2 separate regions of the Homo sapiens genome follow, and region 1 is linked to region 2. Evidence: fine-mapped expression QTL. A gene starts in region 2. The other region holds a variant in brackets. All regions are shown on one strand. Distances are between the middles of the regions. Region 1 overlaps GALNS (galactosamine (N-acetyl)-6-sulfatase). Region 2 holds the start of GALNS (galactosamine (N-acetyl)-6-sulfatase).

The links.
Region 1: its variant is fine-mapped to the expression of GALNS in tibial artery (GTEx, PIP 0.96).

What each region holds. Positions count from the first base shown.
Region 1 is chr16:88,822,838-88,831,521 of GRCh38, forward strand. It overlaps GALNS (galactosamine (N-acetyl)-6-sulfatase), which reads right to left. Exons shown (of 14, transcript NM_000512.5): 10 at 3,865-4,001; 11 at 1,930-2,032. Among named protein-coding and RNA genes, the nearest start is that of APRT, 15 kb to the left of the region's middle. The variant C/G (reference allele first, on the strand shown) is at 3,768.
Region 2 is chr16:88,852,857-88,862,021 of GRCh38, forward strand. GALNS (galactosamine (N-acetyl)-6-sulfatase) reads right to left here and starts at 4,091. Exons shown (of 14, transcript NM_000512.5): 1 at 3,902-4,091. The coding sequence starts at 4,021. TRAPPC2L (trafficking protein particle complex subunit 2L) reads left to right here and starts at 4,271. Exons shown (of 5, transcript NM_001318525.2): 1 at 4,271-4,327; 2 at 5,763-5,935; 3 at 6,807-6,894; 4 at 7,037-7,116; 5 at 8,058-9,165. The coding sequence starts at 4,295. The coding sequence ends at 8,103. It overlaps LOC107983950 (a long non-coding RNA gene), which reads right to left and starts at 3,724. Exons shown (of 2, transcript XR_933884.3): 1 at 3,595-3,724; 2 at 2,272-3,445. RefSeq lists silencers at 2,085-2,154, 3,824-4,223.

The DNA of each region.
Region 1 (8,684 bases), 30 kb before region 2:
CCCTAACTGGGGGCCGTGGGGGGGTCTCGTCTGCCTGTGCCTAGCAGCGTCCCTGGTACTCAGCATGGTGCAGGGCGCTGGCTAAACGCTGAAGGACTAGCGGGCCCATAAGCATCCTGTGGAGGAGGTGAAGCCACCCGCTCTGGGCCCGAGATGCGTAGCTGGCATGCCTCACGTACCCTGTTTTCATGTACCCCTCTTCTTTGCGAGGCAGGTGAGTGTATTTAAAACACCTTAGCCAGCCTCAGATCTGGACTGCCACTAATTTCATGGAGGAAAGCCCCTTTTAACAGCCTACTCTCTGCTGGGGAAGGGAGGGGAGGGAAAGGGACGGGAAGGGAGGCCCTGCCCTGGGAGAAGGGAGAGCCACAACGCTCAGAATCCCTACAGAAACCCTAAGACAGGGAGGAGCAGGACCAACATGTGAAAGGCAAGAGAAAACACAGAAAACAAAAACAGACCCAGGGAGCTGACACAGATTCACACACTCAAGAAGGGCAAGGATTTTACAGTAACCACAATTCTCTTTCTGCTGCCCCTGGGCCTCCTGATTCGGGAAAGGCGAGGTATGCCTCTAACATTCCCAGAGCGGGTGCTGCAGGCCAAGGGGCTCGTCCGAGGACTGTGCCCAGGACGGCCCTCGCAGGCGGCAATGCCGGGGACCGATGCCCAGGACGGCCCTCGCAGGCGGCAATGCCGGGGACCGATGCCCAGGACGGCCCTCGCAGGCGGCAATGCCGGGGACCGATGCCCAGGACGGCCCTCGCAGGCGGCAATGCCGGGGACCGATGCCCAGGACGGCCCTCGCAGGCGGCAATGCCGGGGACCGATGCCCAGGACGGCCCTCGCAGGCGGCAATGCCGGGGACCGATGCCCAGGACGGCCCTCGCAGGCGGCAATGCCCGGGGAACGATGCCCAGGACGGCCCTCGCAGGCGGCAATGCCCGGGGACCGATGCCCAGGACGGCCCTCGCAGGCGGCAATGCCGGGGACCGATGCCCAGGACGGCCCTCACAGGCGGCAATGCCGGGGACCGATGCCCAGGATGGCCCTTGCAGGTGACAGTGCTGGGTAAAACCCGAAAGAAGAGCGGGTGCGGGGCCTGCACAGGGTGGGGAGGAGCCAAAACACTCCTGGGCATCATTGCCCTCCAGACACTGCCCCACGAGCAGCTTCCCTCCTCAGCCTGGGTGCTCAGCCCTCAGCCCCAGTTCTCACTTCCAGTCTTTAGACTCTCCATTACACTAAATGATTTTCTTCCCAATTAAGGCAGATTAGCAGGGGGTTCATATCTCAAGACTTTGATGCTGGGAGTGGGTGGGGCTGAGAGAGACCTCTCAGGAGGGGCTGGGGGATGCTGGAGCGTAGGGGTCAGCAGGGGCCAGAAAAGACCGTGGGGAGGGAGCAGGAGGCTTGAGGCGAGGGCTCGTGGGAGAAAGCCTGGCGCTGACAATGCTGGGGTAGCCTGGGGCGGCAGGAGCCCCAGGCCCTGTGCGTGTGGCGTTTCACCCTCCCACACTGGGGGTTGCTGTGGTGATGCCAATGCTGCGGCCCCCATGTAGCACCTGGGCCAAGCAGGCCACGTCTCTGTCGCCTCCAGCCTGGGGTGTGGGGGAGGCTCAGATGCCCTGGCAGGATGGAGAGGCCCATGGGGGCCACCTGACCAGGGTCTAGGCCACGCCTGTAGCTATGCCGCGGGGCTACTGTCATCACGCGGGGCAGGAAGAGGTCCCTCCCTCCTCTCCAGCCTGTCAGCTGCCATGCCCTAGGCCACGCTGAACGACTGGGGGCCACACAGAGAAGGCTGTGGAGGGGGTGGAGTTCCTGCCTGTCTCACCCTCCTGTGCCTCCCCCAGGACGGTGCTCAGGGGCCACGTCTGGATAGAGATGGGGGCAGCTCCGCCTGCGCCCACGTCCCGAGCCCTGTACCTGTCTGAAGTTCTCCCAGGAGTTGGTCCAGGTCCAGAAGTGAGCCTTGTGCTGCCCGAGGGTGGCCGCCATCAGCGTGTCGCCACGGTAATAGAAGATAGGCCTGTGGGATGGGAGGGGAGGACCATGTAATGACAGGAAGGACACGCTGGGGCCACCTGGAGGCTCTGGGCTGCGTCTGTCATCAGTGGCTCATGCCTCCACGTGAGGTCTTGGTTGATACTTTACAAAGATGATTGAAAAGTAAAAAGGCCCGCAAGGTGGCTGGGGCTGGGGTGCCTGGGCGGCCGGGGCTGGAGCTCCTGGGTGGCCAGGGCTGGGGTGACTGGGTATCTGGGGCGCCTGGGTGTCTGGGGCTGGGGTGTCTGGGCGGCCGGGGCTGGGGTGACTGGGTGTTTGGGCGGCCGGGGCTGGGGTGACTGGGTGTCTAGGGTGCCTGGGTGTCTGGGGCGCCTGGGTGTCTGGGGCTGGGGTGTCTGGGTGGCCAGGGCTGGGGTGCCTGGGTGTTTGGGCAGCCGGGGCTGGGGTGCCTGGGTGGCCGGGGCGACTGGGTATCTGGGGTGCCTGGGTGTCTGGGGCTGGGGTGTCTGGGCAACCGGGGCTGGGGTGGCTGGGTGTCTGGGTGGCCGGGGCTGGGGTGACTGGGTGTCTGGGGTGCCTGGGTGTCTAGGGCTGGAGTGCCTGGGCGGCCAGGGCTGGGGTACCTGGGTGTCTGGGCGGCCGGGGCTGGGGTGCCTGGATGTCTGGGGCTGGGGTTTCTGGGCAGCCGGGGCTGGGGTGCCTGGGTGTCCGGGACTGGGATTCCTGGGCAGCTGGGGCTGGGGTGCCTGGGTGTCTGGGGTGCCTGGGCGGCCGGGGCTAGGGTGCCTGGGCGTCCCCTCATTGCTGGTCCTTGGCAAGGCTGGGCCAGACCCTGGGGAGGGTGGGCAGACAAGAGGATAAGCAGGCGGCACGGGGTCTCCTGACCATGTTGGGCCTGCGAGTCAGGAACGGGGAGTGGGGGACGCAGCTGGGCACCGTCTCTCCCCACAGTGACCAACCACTTGTGCCAGGTCTCGAGAGGGGACAAGTGAGCAAAACTCCCTCTACCCGGCCCCAGATAGCCGGAGGCGGCAGCTGCCTTGGGCCGTCCCCACCTTGCTTCCCGTTGAGCCTTTGGAATCCTCATCCCTTCAGGACCACCCAGGAAACGTGGTTTGAGTGGAATGGTGGCTGCTCTCAGGGGGTAGGAAATGGACTTTGGACACTAAGGATTTGGACAGAAGGTAAGAGCTGGGCCATGGACTTGGCAGAGCAGCGACTTGGATGGAAGGAAGAAGGAAGCTACAGGAAGCCATGAGGCACCAAAAACCAGGCTGGGCAGGGAACAGGGGTGGGGCAGACAGGGGCAGCGTGTGCCCGGGCTACAGACAGGGAACAGGGGTGGGGCGGGCAGGGGCGGCGTGTGCCCAGGTACAGGCAGGCAACAGGGGTGGGGCAGGCAGGGGTGGCATGTGCCCGGGCTGCAGGCAGGGAACAGGGGTGGGGCGGACAGGGGCGGCGTGTGTCTGGGTACAGGCAGGGAACAGGGGTGCGGCGGACAGGGGTGGCGTGTGTCTGGGTACAGGCAGGGAACAGGGGTGGGGCGGGCAGGGGCGGCATGTGCCCGGGTACAGGCAGGGATGAGGCCCCTCTCCTGGCCTTGCCCTCCCTCCTAAGGCTTTCTTGAAAGCCAGGGCCTCGCTGTGCTTGGACCCTCCCAGGATGGCCCCTGCCCCACAGGCAGGTCCCCAGGTCCTCTCGTCTCAGGCACCCCTGCCTCCTCCTGCCCTGGGCACGAGCACGCCTGTGTCCAGAAC[C/G]AGGAGGGCTGCTGGGCCTGGGGGTTGCACCTGATTAGCAGCTCTGGGCTTCACTACTTGGATCGGGGGAAGGGGCCGGGGCAGGTCTAGCACCAACCTGTCCATCAGCCGGCCCTGCAGGAGGGTGGGGAGGAGGTTGAGGCCATCAATGGCCCTGTCGCTGGGCGGCGTCAGGCCCGCAAGGGCCAGGCTGGTGGTGAAGAGGTCCATGATGCTGCCCAGCTGGTGGCTCACCTGAAACACATGGCAGCAACACGGTCAGGGCACTCTGCACCGACCCGATGGGGCTGGGGGCCAATCCCTGGGGGGGCGTGAGCCCCGCTGCCCAGCTGGGTCTACAGATATGCATACATGCTCACACGCCCACAGCAGGGACTGAGCGGGGTCACAAGGCCTGTGAGAGACAGAGGAGCCTCAAACCAGGCCCAAAGACCCCAGAGCCAGGCCACGCCCTCACTCCCTGGCACCCTTCTCTGCCTCTGTGGATCAGATGAAAGGAGAATCACAGCCCTCCCAGGGAGATGCCCCTCCAGGCCCACCTGTCCGGAGAGGATCAGCCTCGCTCTAACACTGAATGCCCTAAGGCCACTGTGAGCCCTGCCCCTTAAGTCAGAGGAGCAGGTGGAGAAAAACCAGATGTGGAGGGGCAGCTGAGGCTGGACAGGAGCAGCTCCGAGTGGCTGGGGTGGGGACGGCTCCTGACACACCCAGAGAGCTCCAGGACAGGCAGGAGGCTGTCTTTCCCGCCGTGCCTTGACCTCCGGAGGGCGTGGGCACTGCTGACCAGCCATGAGCAGAGCGTGCCATCTGGCTTCCCTCAGTGGCCCTGTCTGCTTCTTGTTTTTTGTTTTTGTTTTTTGAGATGGAGTTTTGTTCTTGTCACCCAGGCTGGAGTGCAGTGGTGCGATCTCAGCTCACCACAACCTCTGCCTTCCAGGTTCAAGTGATTCTCCTGACTCAGTCTCCCGAGAAGCTGGGATTACAGGTATGTGTCACTACGCCCGGCTAATTTTGTACTTTTAGTAGAGACGGGGTTTCTCCATGTTGGTCAGGCTGGTCTCGAACTCCCAACCTCAGGTGATCTGCCCGCCTCAGCCTCCCAAAGTGCTGGGATTACAGGCATGAGCCCGGCGGCCCTGTCTCTTTCTTAACTCGGGGGCTCCAGGCTTGGGTCACTCGACGGGGAGACTGGGGTGGGGCTGGAGAGACACCCCTGCCTGGCAAGCTCAGCCCCTGGGGCAGCTGGGCAGGGACCGCCATCCGCTGCCAGGCCCTGGAGCTCCCACCCAGTGTCGACAGCCCTCCCCACGGTCCAGGGGCACCCTCGCCGCCTGCAGCCAGCTCCTCGCTAGGGCAGACGGCGATCGCCAGCTTCTCCAACAGAGGAGCCCTGGCCTCACAGGGACACTCACTCCGCGCTGCAGCCGCTCACGGGATGTGGGGTCTGCAGCGCCCAGTGTGGGGCAGGGAATGCAAAGCTCAGCGTTTGCCAGGAAAGTTCAGGAAGCTTTGCAGAAGGTGAGAAGCTTCCCCAGGTCTGGTCAGCAGTGTCTGTGCGACTGCTTCCCGTCCTTCCCGTGTCCTTTAAAGGACAGAATAATAAAGGAAAGAAATCCAGATGCTTTTGTCATCTGAAAAAATAACTGCGGAGCAGTGCTTGTGGTGCCGGCAGGGCGGGCGGGCGGGAGTGGTGTCAGCACAGGCAGGGTCCTCGTGGAGCGTTTTCGAAGAACTCTCCAGGCAGCGATGCCTTCCAGAAACATCCAGAAATGCAGTGGGCAGCTGCGGCTGTGGGAGAAGTCACTGAAACCGTTATCAGCGCTTTCGAGACTTCACTCAGAATCCAGGGCTGCAGGGACTAAAGCCTCCCCTGCCCAGAGGGAACTGTCGGGACAGACGTCAGGCGCTTTCACTGAAACCCCGTCGTGGTGTCCTGGTGCACAGGCCTGATGCCATCGAATTCAATTTCACTTTGTGGCCCACGGGAAAAGGCAACTTGGTGGCTCTGGGAAGAGGGTTTCCCTTCCTCAGGTGGGGAGAGGGTTTCCCTTCTTCAGGGAGCGAGGCAGATGGCAAGGTTCCAAAACGCTGAAATTGGCATTTTTCTCAGCTGGAGCCTTTCCGTGGGCAGGTGGGTGGGGAGGTCTGTGGGGTACAGACGTCCCTGAACCCACTACGCATGGAGCCGGGCGGCGCTGGGGTGGCTCCCCTCACCTTTTCCAGGCTGCTGCTGAGCACAGCCACGGGTGGCTCCCAGCCTGGGGAGCAGAGCCCCAGCCCTGTCCCGGCCTGGTGGGCACCCACTGCAGTGGGGAACCTCACATCTCCCAGACCTACGCAGGTCCCGAGTCTCATGCCATCGTCTCCCAGACCTACGCGGGTCCCGGGTCTCACGCCATCGTCTCCCAGACCTACGCGGGTCCCGAGTCTCACGCCAACGTCTCCCAGAGCTACACGGGTCCCGAGTCTCATGCCAACGTCTCCCAGAGCTACACAGTTCCTGAGTCTCATGCCAACGTCTCCCAGAGCTACGCGGGTCCCGAGTCTCATGCCAACGTCTCCCAGAGCTACACAGTTCCTGAGTCTCATGCCAACGTCACAGTGTTCACTGAGTGACCACCGGCCACTCCCTGCAGGTGCCCCCACACAAGAAACCAAATGGCCCATCCCTACCCTCAGGGGGATGGCGCTCAGGGGAGTGGAGGGGGCGGCACAGCTGCATTCTGTCCTAGGGGCACCCCACACCACAAAGGAGGCCGTGCCCACCACCCATGCTTCTCCTGCACAACAAGGCGGTCACTCTCACAGCCACTCTGCCCTTCACACGGAGCCGCAGCTGCCTTTTCAGTGAACCGTGGGGTCTCTTCCACCTTCAGGGTCCTGGGAACTTGGGGTGGCCCAGGAGTCCCATGTCAGACAAAGGCTGCCCTGGGCAGGGTCTGAGGGAGGCCCAGACAGCTGTAGAGAACAGGCGCCCTTGGCAGTTGCCGCCCCCAGTCCCACTGGCTGCTGGGGACACAGGGGACTGCCCAGGCATGGTGGGCAGGAGTGCAGGATCCACAGCCAGGCGCCTGCTCCCACCTCTGCTCCCTAGTAATTGGGGGACCCTGACAGACGACTTCCTCTCTGGCCTCAGTTTCCTGATGTGTAGAATGAGTGGGGAAGAGGAGGATCTGGCAGAACAGCAGCCAATCCCTGGGCCTTCAGGCGCGCGACCAGGCCAGGCAATTGAGGCGGCAGACACAACGCAGGCCGCTCATCAGCGAGGCTCGAAACAGGGAGGCCAGCCTGGGTGAGCAGGGGGTGGGGTGGGACACAGCCACAGGGTCCTCAAAAGTGGAACAGGCGCCGGGCGCGGTGGCTCACGCCTGTAATCCCAACACTTTCGGAGGCCGAGGCGGGCAGATCACGAGGTCAGGAGATTGAGACCATACTGGCCAACATAGTGAAACTCCGTCTCTACTAAAAATACAAAAATTAGCCGGGCATGGTAGAGCATGCCTGTAGTCCCAGCTACTCGGGAGGCTGAGGCAGGAGAATCGCTTGAATCTGGGAGGTAGAAGTTGCAGTGAGCCGAGATTGCACTACTGCACTCCAGCCTGGGCAACAGAGTGAGACTTCATCTCAAAAAAAAAAAAAAAAAAAAAAAAAACGTGGAACAGGAAGGCCAGGGACAGATGCCTGCGTGCTGCTGGCTTTGACGGTGGAGGGGCCAGGAGCTCAGGAATGGGGCAGCTACTAGGATTGGGAAAAGGCAGGGAACAGAACATCTCCTGGAGCCTCCAGAAGGAGCTGGCCCCACGCACGTCTTCACTCAGCCCCATGAGCCCCATGTTGACTCTGGCTGTCGTCATGTGTGATGTTCCAGCTGCCACTGGGAGCCCCCCCCATCCTCGTGGGGCCACTTGAAGGGGATGGCTGCCTCTGGAGGCCATTGGGAGGGCAAAAGACTAAGAAACAGTGAAGAAACAGCGGTCGTTTACAAACACCAGACTCAGCCCCGCGTGTTGATGGGTATGTCTGGCTCAAGTGCCTGTTACAGAAGACCACACGGTGTGATTCTCAACCGAGGGGCAGCTTCCTGGGCCAGAGGAGATGCAGTGACAGCATGAAGGTGGTCACACTGAGATGGCAGGGCGCACCCTCGCCCAGCCAGGACCCAGGCCACCACCGAGGTCCGCACCCCATGCGGCAGACAGACACCAACGGTCTCGTGTCGGGCTGCTGCTGTTCTCTGAGTGTCCTTAGGACACTGGCCTGAGAAGATGTGCTTTGGGGGAAAAAACGACCGATTCTGTAGTAGACAGACAGGTTTTTAAACACTCAGCCTGCTCTAAGCCCCTTCTAGAAGCTCATGGTGCCCACCAGCATGCTAAAGGCACTGATAAGTCCTGCAGGGAAGAAACCTGTTTAGCTCCATTTAACTCAGGACTGCTGCGGTGACTGGACCACGGATGTCTCCTCACCACACAGTCATTACCAGCACCCACGTGACACACGGCAGTATACGTGGCTCCAGTCCCCACCGAGAGCCTTCCTGCCTGTCTGACCAAGCACAGCAAGCCCTACACACCGAGAGCCACCGAGAGGGACCTGGTTCCGAGGAGAGCGGTGAGGCCGAGCACGGGGTGCGTGGGGAGGAGAGCGGTGAGGCCGAGCACGGGGTGCGTGGGGAGGAGAGCGGTGAGGCCGAGCACGGGGTGCGTGGGGAGGAGAGCGGTGAGGCCGAGCACGGGGAGCGTGGGGAGGAGAGCGGTGAGGCCGAGCACGGGGTGCGTGGGGAGGAGAGCGGTGAGGCCGAGCACGGGGTGCGTGGGGAGGAGAGCGGTGAGGCCGAGCACGGGGTGCGTGGGGAGGAGAGCGGTGAGGCCGAGCACGGGGTGCGTGGGGAGGAGAGCGGTGAGGCCGAGCACGGGG
Region 2 (9,165 bases):
AGGCAGGAAAATTGCTTGAGCCCAGTAGTTTGAGGCTGCAGTGAGCTGTGATCGAGCTACTGCACTCCAGCCTGGGTGACAGAGCCAGACCTTGTCTCAAAAAAAAAGTCCTGGCTGGGTGTGGTGGCTCATGCCTGTAATCCCAGCACTTTGGGAGGCTGAGGCAGGCAGATCACCTGAGGTCAGGAGTTTCAGGCCAGACTGGCCAATATGGTGAAACCCCGTCTCCACTAGAAATACAAAAATTAGCTGGGCACGGTGGTGGGAGCCTGTAGTCCCAGCTACTCGGGAGGCTGAGGCAGGAGAATTGCTTGAACCTGGGAGACGGAGGTTGCAGTGAGCTGAGATCACACCACTGCAATCCAGCCTGGGTGACCAGAGTGAGACTCCATCTCAAAAAAAAAAAAAAAAAAAAAAAAGGCCTAAAAGCCCCCAAATGATTGTCCACGTTCAGCGAGCACAGCTGTGAGCCATGGATCAGTATCCTTCAGAATTTCAGAGTTTTAAGAAACGCAGTTTCCATTCCTACTGGTTGCTATGGGATTATTATGAAGACGAGCAGGCCAGTGCTTGTCTGTTTCAAACGAGGGGCACTGAGCAACCCTCCCCGGACTCTGGTGGCTCGACGAGGCTGCTGTGGCAACAGGAGCTGGCCTGGGTGGCCCTGACTCTCCACTTCCTCTGTGGTCAGGGCTGACCCTCCTTAACCCTATTTTCCAAATAAGGAGTGGAGACACAGAGTGCTGCTCGCCCTGGGAGGCAGGAGCTGTGTGTGGGCCAGAGTGGAACTTGTCACTGGGTCTCACCTGTCTCCAAGGCCCCAGAAGCCCTGGAGAGCAGAGTGGGCCACGCAGGTTTCCTCACTCACGCAGCAGGTGCCCAGGGTACTACGAAGCCAGGCCGCGCTGGACCGTGGGTCAGTGAAAGGCCAGGGCAGGGCAGCCCTGGGGAGTGCAGGTAGACCCGTCCTTGCCCGGCTCAGCTCCCCCTGGACAGGTGGGGGCTCTTGCCAGCTGCTCTCACCCCTGAGTCCCAGCTTCCCCTTCTGGTCCCGACTCTGGGGGCAATGGTTCTCTCCCGGGTCAGTGTGACCAGTTGGAGAGTGGCTTCTGGCCATGAGGGGTGCAATAAGCTAGTTTTGGGGACAACCCTTTTCTGAAACTGCACTTGCTTAGACGAAAGGGGGGCCCAGGCCCCCCACTGCCCAGCCACAGAGGACTGGATAGGGGGAGACTGGGCTGGAGGCAGCCGGTCCCTGGAGGGCCATGCTCCAAAATCTGAACTTGAGACATGCACACTCGTCCTCAAGTGGTGCTGGGCCCAGAGCTGTGGGTCATCAAGCCATCCCATGTCATGCCAGAGGCCGAATGACCTGTTGCAGGTTCAGACGCCAGCGCCCTGGCAGAAACAACCGGTCTGCAGTGCAGGAAGAGGTGTGGACAGGGCTGCGGAGGAAGCCCCGGACTCCAAGGAGAGAAGACAGCCTGTGAGGACCCCCTTGCACCCTGGGCCACGTCAGGGCACCTCGGGGCTCCACTGTGAGCTTCTGTGGCTCTCACCTGCCAGCATCCCTGCCCTGTCCTGGCAGCTGCACCATGGGCCCTTCAGGGAACCCCCTCTCTGCTGGGTCCAGGCAGATGAGATGATCAGGGGCAGTCTCCCTTCTGGGGTAGGCCCGAGGCTCCGAGGCCTGGGCTGGACAGGTCAGCATGTGCCCCTCCCCCAGTGTGCTTGGCGCAGGGCTGAGACCCACATCACGCTAACATGACACGGGCAGAGCCAACCTCCCACTGGGTCTGCTGACTGCAGGGGTGACTTGGAGTCACCTAGGACCATCACAGGCTGAGTGAGGATGTGGCCAGTTCAGAGGCAGCAGAGCCACGAAAGGGGAAACTCGCCAGGCGGCCCTGGTCTGTCGACTCAGGAGGGCCAGGGAATCCCCACTGTTGCTTGTCACTTTGACTTCATCTTCTGCTGTCTGCATCAGAAAGTCCTTACAAGTACACCTACCGGCCAGGACACAGCTCCTCTGGGGTTCTTTAGGCGTCAGCTGCCAAACGACCCCACAAGCCACACAGTGGAGGCCACAGAACAGGTGCCCAGGTGGGCGGGGCTTCCTGTCACCCTCCCCCACATGTGCCCCGGTGGCCACACCCCACCCCTCCACCCTGCACGGCCTGAACCCTTGCTGTCCTATGGAAACGTAGGGTGAGTCCACATGCAATTCCCTATTTACCGGGAGCCACATTAGAAAAGCAGAAGTAGGTGAAATACAGACTAACTTTATATTTTATTTAACCCAACATAACCAAAATATTATTTCGACAAGTCTTCAACATAAAAAATTATTCATGAGCTGCCCCGCCTCACCCCTCTGTCCTCTGAGAAAGTCAGGAAAAGCAGAAACTTAACAGGGAGGCTTCACCTGCAGAGCCCAGCTCATCCAGCGAAGCTATGCTGGCCCAGAAGGAGTTACACAATGAAAAGAAGAAATTCTGAAACAAAGTATCTACACTGGCCCAGAGGAACTTCAAAAGTGAAAGGATGAAATTCTGAAGCAAAGTATCTTTAGGAGGGAGATGCCACTCAGTGCAGAGAAAGGCCCGGCTACTGCTGTCAGGACACGGACCCCTGGGCGCTGGAGAGCGTGCTCTGGAAAGCAGTCACTGCACACAAATAAGACATATGAGATGGAAAAGCAGCTGCCCAGGACTGTCGGCTGTCACCCCTGGGTGGGGAAATTATGGGTGGTGTCTGTTATCTTTTCAAGTATATCTTTATGTTAAAAAACCATTAATTTAATAAAATTGTTAAGTGAGATATTTTACATTATTTTTCTTTCACCAAGTCTTCTAAATCTGTGTATTTTACACTACCAGCACCTTCCAATTCCGACAGCCACGACTGCCCAGCCCTTGGGTGTGGCCCGTGGCCCCCACTGGTCAGCACAGGTGGGTCTGAAGGCACCTGTCAGGGTCTCTGCTGGTCGGAGCCAGCACACAGGGGCTGAGCGACACCGACGGCCCAAAACTGTCTGGTACTCGGTGTCGTCCCAGTCCTCACACACAACGTGAGCACGGCGGGACAGGTGTAACCCCCCAGGTGTGGCAGCTGAGGTTCAAGAATGGAAGTGACCCCCAAGCTTGGAGACAGTAGGGTTTCAACCCAGGTGTGTCTGGGGTCCTGCACGGTGACCCATGCCCCAGGCAGGCTCATTCCTGAGTCTCCAGGTGGCTCCCACAAGGAGTTAGGGAAGGAGGCCTCCAGGCTGGCTGTGACCCCTGACCCCGCACTTGCCCACCAGGAGACATTCCAGCCTTTCAGTTCTTCAGACCTTAGGGACACCTGACCTTCGCTCAGCATTCTCCAGAGGACAGAGACAGCCGTCAGGTAAGACTGGAGCCCAGCGGGGGGACCCGGCGGCCCGAGGTGGCGGGAGTGATTCCTAGGGCGACGCAGCTCTCAGGCAGGGCGGCAGGAGCAGCCTCTTCCTCCCTTTGGGGAGGCCACGCTGCGCGCCCACCTTTCCCAAGAGTAGAGGGCGGGAAAGGTCAGACGGGGGAGGCAGGGCCCGGTAGCACGCCGGCCACCCACCTGCCAGGGAGGACGCTGTCCCGGTCATGCAGCACAGTGGCAGCGCGTGTGGTGATCGGTGACCGCCGAGACCCCACGCCTGGACCCCGCGGCCACTCCCCGAGGGGCCTCCCCCTCCCCGCACGGGGATACCCCCCGTCCCCTCCCCCTCCTCCTCCCCGCGCGGGGCCTCCCCCCTTCCCCAAGGGGCCTCCCCTCACCTCTCCCCCCACCCCGCCCGCCCTTCCCCCACCTCGCTCCTCCCTCCATCCGCCCCTCCCCTCCCCGCCCCACCCCGGCCCTGCCCCGTCCCACCGCCCGCACTCACGTCGTCCATGAGCAGGAGCAGGATGTTGGGGGGCTGCGGGGCGCCCGAGGCCCCCATCCCCGCGGCGCTGAGCACCAGCAACAGCTGCCACCACCTCGTCGCCGCGACAACCGCCGCCATGGCAACCACGGGAGCCGCGGAGCCCCGGCCAGCGAGCCGACCTAGCGAGCGTCCGCCGGCCCTTCCGGCTGGGCTGCGGGGCGGGGCCTGGACGGCCACGTGACTCGCGGGGCGGGGCCAGAGTCCGCGGAGGGACGGGAGGCGGGGCCTGGACTGCCTCGTGACCAGTGGGGCGGGGCCTGAGCCAGCTGTGTGCGGATGGGGCGGGGCTTTGGAGGCCGCGTGACCAGCGGCGGGTCACGTGACGCGGTGCCTGGCGCCGAGCCTCCCAAGATGGCGGTGTGCATCGCGGTGATTGCCAAGGAGGTGCGTACGCGCGGCGTGGGGCGTCCGGGCTCGCACCATCCTCGGCTCTCCGCTTTCTTTCTACTTCTTCCCTGGGCTTAGAAGGCACCTTAGGAAATGGGACCTGGAGGAGGCCTTCGCCGAGCTCCAGCGGTCAGGGGCTTCGCGGTGGACGAGCCGCCAGGCAGACCCTGACTGAGACCCCAGTTCCGCGCTCGCCCGTCCCGCTGCTGAACGCACCCCTCGGCGCAGCAGGTCTCCTCCCCGCCAGGACCCACCAGAAACCTAGGTGGTCCCGGGCACTACCTCCGTCCTCCGTCCTCAGCAGGTTCTGCCCGTTCTCCCGTCCAGCGCTGGTTCCCCGCGGACGGCGGCCCCGGCCCTCCTGCCAGTCTCCCCGGAGCCGAGTTAAAAACAAATCGGATCCTGTCACGCCTCTGCCTGAGACCTCTGCAGTGGCTTCTCGTTGCCTTAGGATGCTGTCTGAATAACCTGCTCTGGGATCCTTTCCCCCCATAACCCTTGGCACTCTCCGCTCCAACCAAACAATTCTGCAGCTCCCTGGACATGCTCTGCCCTCTCACCTGTGGGCCTTTGCACGCGGAACACCTCTCCCCAGCTCCCATCCTCTTTACTGGCCCACATACATTTCAACTGGAAAGCATTTTCTGAAGGCTAAGACTGAGCTGGGTGGCTGCCCACACGCTCCTGCTGCACGGAGCCTTCATTTCCTAGCCAGGGTCTCCCGAGACCAGACTCGAGACCGCTCCCTGCTGGGCGGTGGCTGCTGCTAAGCTGCTCATGGGCTTCCCTCTTGGCCAAGATGATCATTTGCTTGTTTGTGGGTTTATTGACTAGGTATCACTCCCCACGAGGGTAGCGAGGACTCTTGTTCACTGTATTTGTGCAGGACCCAGTGCTGAACACACACAGGGTAAATGGTGGTGTGTGAAAGACCGAGAAAGAAGCTGTTAATTCTGGGCTTCCAATGGTCAGAAATGCAGAGATGAAGGGAATTTGAGCTGAGTCTTGAAGGGTTTAGTAAAAGGGTCACTGTCAAGGTGAAGAAAAGCCAGTATTGAGGGTGCTGTATTTGGGTGAGCCATGCAGAGTTAGAGGTGGGCTGAGGCAGAGTGGCCTCCAGGAGAAGGTGAGAGGCGTGCCCAGGTGCCAGGCTTGATCGGCAGGCTGTGCTCAGGCCCATTTTTCTGATTCATTTTTTCTTTTCCGCCCACCCTACTGCTGCTGCTTTGCAAACAACACATAAATCTCCTTAGGTTAGCTGGGATCCCCTGAAGGCAGTGCCCACTGCGGCATAGAGAATGAAGCGGTGGGCCTTAGAGCATGGGAATGCGTTCCCCGGGTGGCTGCAGGTCACGGCTCTGCAGCATAGTTCAGAGCTGGTGTGCGCTGGGTGGAGTCTTGTCCTTTCAGTCGCCGTCATCCTTTCTTGCAGAATTACCCCCTCTACATTCGCAGCACCCCTACGGAGAACGAGCTGAAGTTCCACTACATGGTGCACACATCTCTGGACGTGGTGGATGAGAAGATCTCCGCAATGGGGAAGGCCCTGGTCGACCAGAGGGAGCTGTACCTGGGCCTGCTCTACCCCACGGAGGACTACAAGGTGTATCTTTCAGGGCAGGGTGTGTGTCAGGGAGGACCTACAGTTGCAAGATGTACTTTAGGATCAGATAACTTGAAACCTTTTAGAAGAAAAAGAGGTGAGAGTTTTTAGCCAGCCAGGGAATTAGGGTAGCTTGAGGTGAATGAAGGCCTGTAACTCTTCTCTTTCATTGGAAGAGCCATTTGGGAAAAGCAAGGCTAGAATTCCCCGTAGAATGTTTTGGTTTGCACGTGTCCGTTGTCTGGTTTGCAGAGGAAGTGGGACACTTCTGCTTTGTACCTGCAAGGATTTCTTTCTGTGCTTTTCAGGGGGAGCCACCACCTTTGAGCAGGGGATAATAGTTTCATTTATTTCATTAGGCCTTGCCTCTTATGTCACTAGACACTCGTCTAGTCCCTTGGGACAAATCACTTGAGGCCATGGAATTCAAAGACCTTCCCAAAAGTCATCATGTAGCCTGTCCATGGTGACATTTGCTAGTAGCCACTATTTTACAAAATAATGTGGCCTCTAGAGAGGGGATCCGCCTTGTTCACGAAGCCTCTGGTTTTGCAGTTAACTTTCCGGGCCAGGCATTGATTCATGAAGAGGGTGAGGTGTTCCAGACAGACAGACTCGGAGTCTAGGTGGTTCGGCTCCTGGAGTGTGAACTGGGTAAGGCTTGGCTGCCTGCTCTTCGCTTCTCCTGCAAACACCAGACGTCGCCCTAGCAAAGTATTTAGGCTTGTACCCAGCACGGCCACTGCAGGACCAGCCCAGCATGGGCATTTCCTGTGATTCAAGGTTGCCACATTTCTCCAAAGTGAGGGCCCACAGAGGGCCCTCCACCGGCAGTCCCTGTGTTACGAGTGCCTTCCCTAACCAGCTGTGCAGATACGGCTACGTCACCAACTCCAAGGTGAAGTTTGTCATGGTGGTAGATTCCTCCAACACAGCCCTTCGAGACAACGAAATTCGCAGCGTAAGTCAGGGAGTTAGAGGGCCACGCCCGAGTGGGTGTTTTGTTTTTCCTTTTTGACTTTGTTTTGAAATGCTGAGAAACTAAAAATCTGGCAGTGGCTGTGTGTATGTGGCAAGGTCATGGTTTGCTGGGTCTTTTTCAGATGTTCCGGAAGCTACACAACTCCTACACAGACGTGATGTGCAACCCCTTCTACAACCCGGGGGACCGCATCCAGTCCAGGTGGGCCCTACTTTCTGTGTCTTGCCACCTTCTTTCTGTAGGACATGCCTTGCCATTTTGGTTGCCAAAATGCAACCATTTGGAAAATAAGGGAGGAAAGATCTTTTTAAGCTATGAGCACCATCCCCCTAGGGCAGAGGTTTTAAAGCCACAAAGCCCCGTTTCTCCACACCAACTCTTACACAGATCTCCAGCGCATAAAGTGGATAGAGTGTGTGTGGTGTGGGGAGTAGAGCTTGCCCATTTGGCTTCCCAGGTGTGCCCAGTGGGTACCTGGGGCACCTGCAGGACTCAGGGCCAAGCACATGGGCAGTGGCTTTCAGGGATCACACGTCCTTTTGTAGCTACCTGATCTTTTATGTTGAATTTGGAACAGTCAGGAACCTGGTTTGCAGGTGTCTTCCGAATAGTCCACAAAGTAAACAGATTTAACTTTTGAACATCATGAGGGAAATGTGGGGTCCATGCCCACATTCCAGACTTGCTTTCAGTGAGTCCCCAGTTCCAAGACATAATTCCCTGTGGTTGGCAGGGAAGAGGACGCTGCAGTGATCCAAGGCAGGCCCCTCCCTCCACCAGGACACTGTCTTGGGGCCATCCTGGTCCCAGATGGGAGCAGGCAGGCGAATGTCCACAGTCTTGCCTCCTGGGCTGCACAGGGCCATCCTTGCCACACCACCGCTCTGCCTGCCCATGCTGCTCCCTCCTCCACCCCTTCCTGGGGCCTTGGGAGGCTGCACAGGGAACTTGGAGGCAGCAGATGGGTTCTCAGTGCCCGGTGGGGTGGGACTCCTGTCCTGGCCTCTCAGCGGAGTTCACATTTCTGGACCCTGGAGAAGGTCCCGAGCATCCTGTGGATGGAGCCATGCTGCCCGGCCCGTCTCTGAGCAGAGGGGTGGAGGGCCTGGCTCTCCTCTGAGTGGGTCTGTTTCTCTTAGCAGGGCCTTTGATAACATGGTGACGTCGATGATGATACAGGTGTGCTGAGTGAGCTGTGCTGCCAGCCATCGCAGAGGAGCCCGCGCACGACTGTGGTGGGGCCGTCGGTCTGTTCTGGTTGCCTCTTCCTGAATGGGACGCCTGGGGCTTTCAGGGCAGGCAGCTGTGCATGTTCTCTCAACTAAAGGTCTTGTGAGAGGAGATTTGGCTTTTTCCTTCCGTGTCAGCCAAGGATTTAATTAAGAAGAATTCAACTAAGGACTTTTCTGGGGTGTGGGCAGAGGTTTGGGATCAGATGGCGCAGGTAGCCTGTCCTCAGTTGTCCCAAAGGGGCAGAGGCAGGGGTGCCTGGAGCCAAGAGTTCCTGAGCCTGCAGGACCTGTGACCATGTGGGTCACCCACTGGCTGAACAGGTGGGCTGGTCTGGAGGGGGTGGCCTCCTGAGCCCAGAACCAGCCTAGGATCTAGGGGCACAAGGGGAGCCGGCGTGGCTTCCCACAGGGGAGGGCCCTCCTCTTTCTGGACTTGGCCTCCATTCTTTGCATCTGGCTCAATGTCTGGATTCCGCCCGGCCTTAAAAGGAGCCCTTGTGAAACCTGGGAAGCCTCGTGGCCCCGCGGCGTTGGCTCAGCTGCAGCCCTGGTCCTAAACCTTGGAGCGCAGACTTGAGGCACCCCCTCCTGCCTGTTGGTGCTGAGGGGGTTGGGTGCTGTGTCACTTGATGACGTGGCTGACTACCACCCAGGGCAGCGGCCGAGCCCATAGTGGCGTCAGTGCCGCCGGCGTCCTTGGGGTCCAGCGGTCAAGGCTCAGCCCGCTGAGGGGACCCCCCCGGAGTTGGTTCCAGCACTGGTCCAGGACTGGAGAGTTTCTCAAGGACCTTGAGGACCCCAGAAGCCCTTGCAGCAGGAAAGGCTGTAAGGGGGGGTCAGCCTAGGGCAGGACCTAGGGAGGGGAACTTTCTTGATACATATTTGCCTTTTCATCCCATCTAGCAAGCACAGTGTTAATTTTAGAAATTATAGAAGAAAAAATCAGCAAGGAGTGTGGGAAAACTGCATGCCCCAGGCCTCCCCCGCCCCAGGGTGAATTGGAAGCCCTGGAATGGGC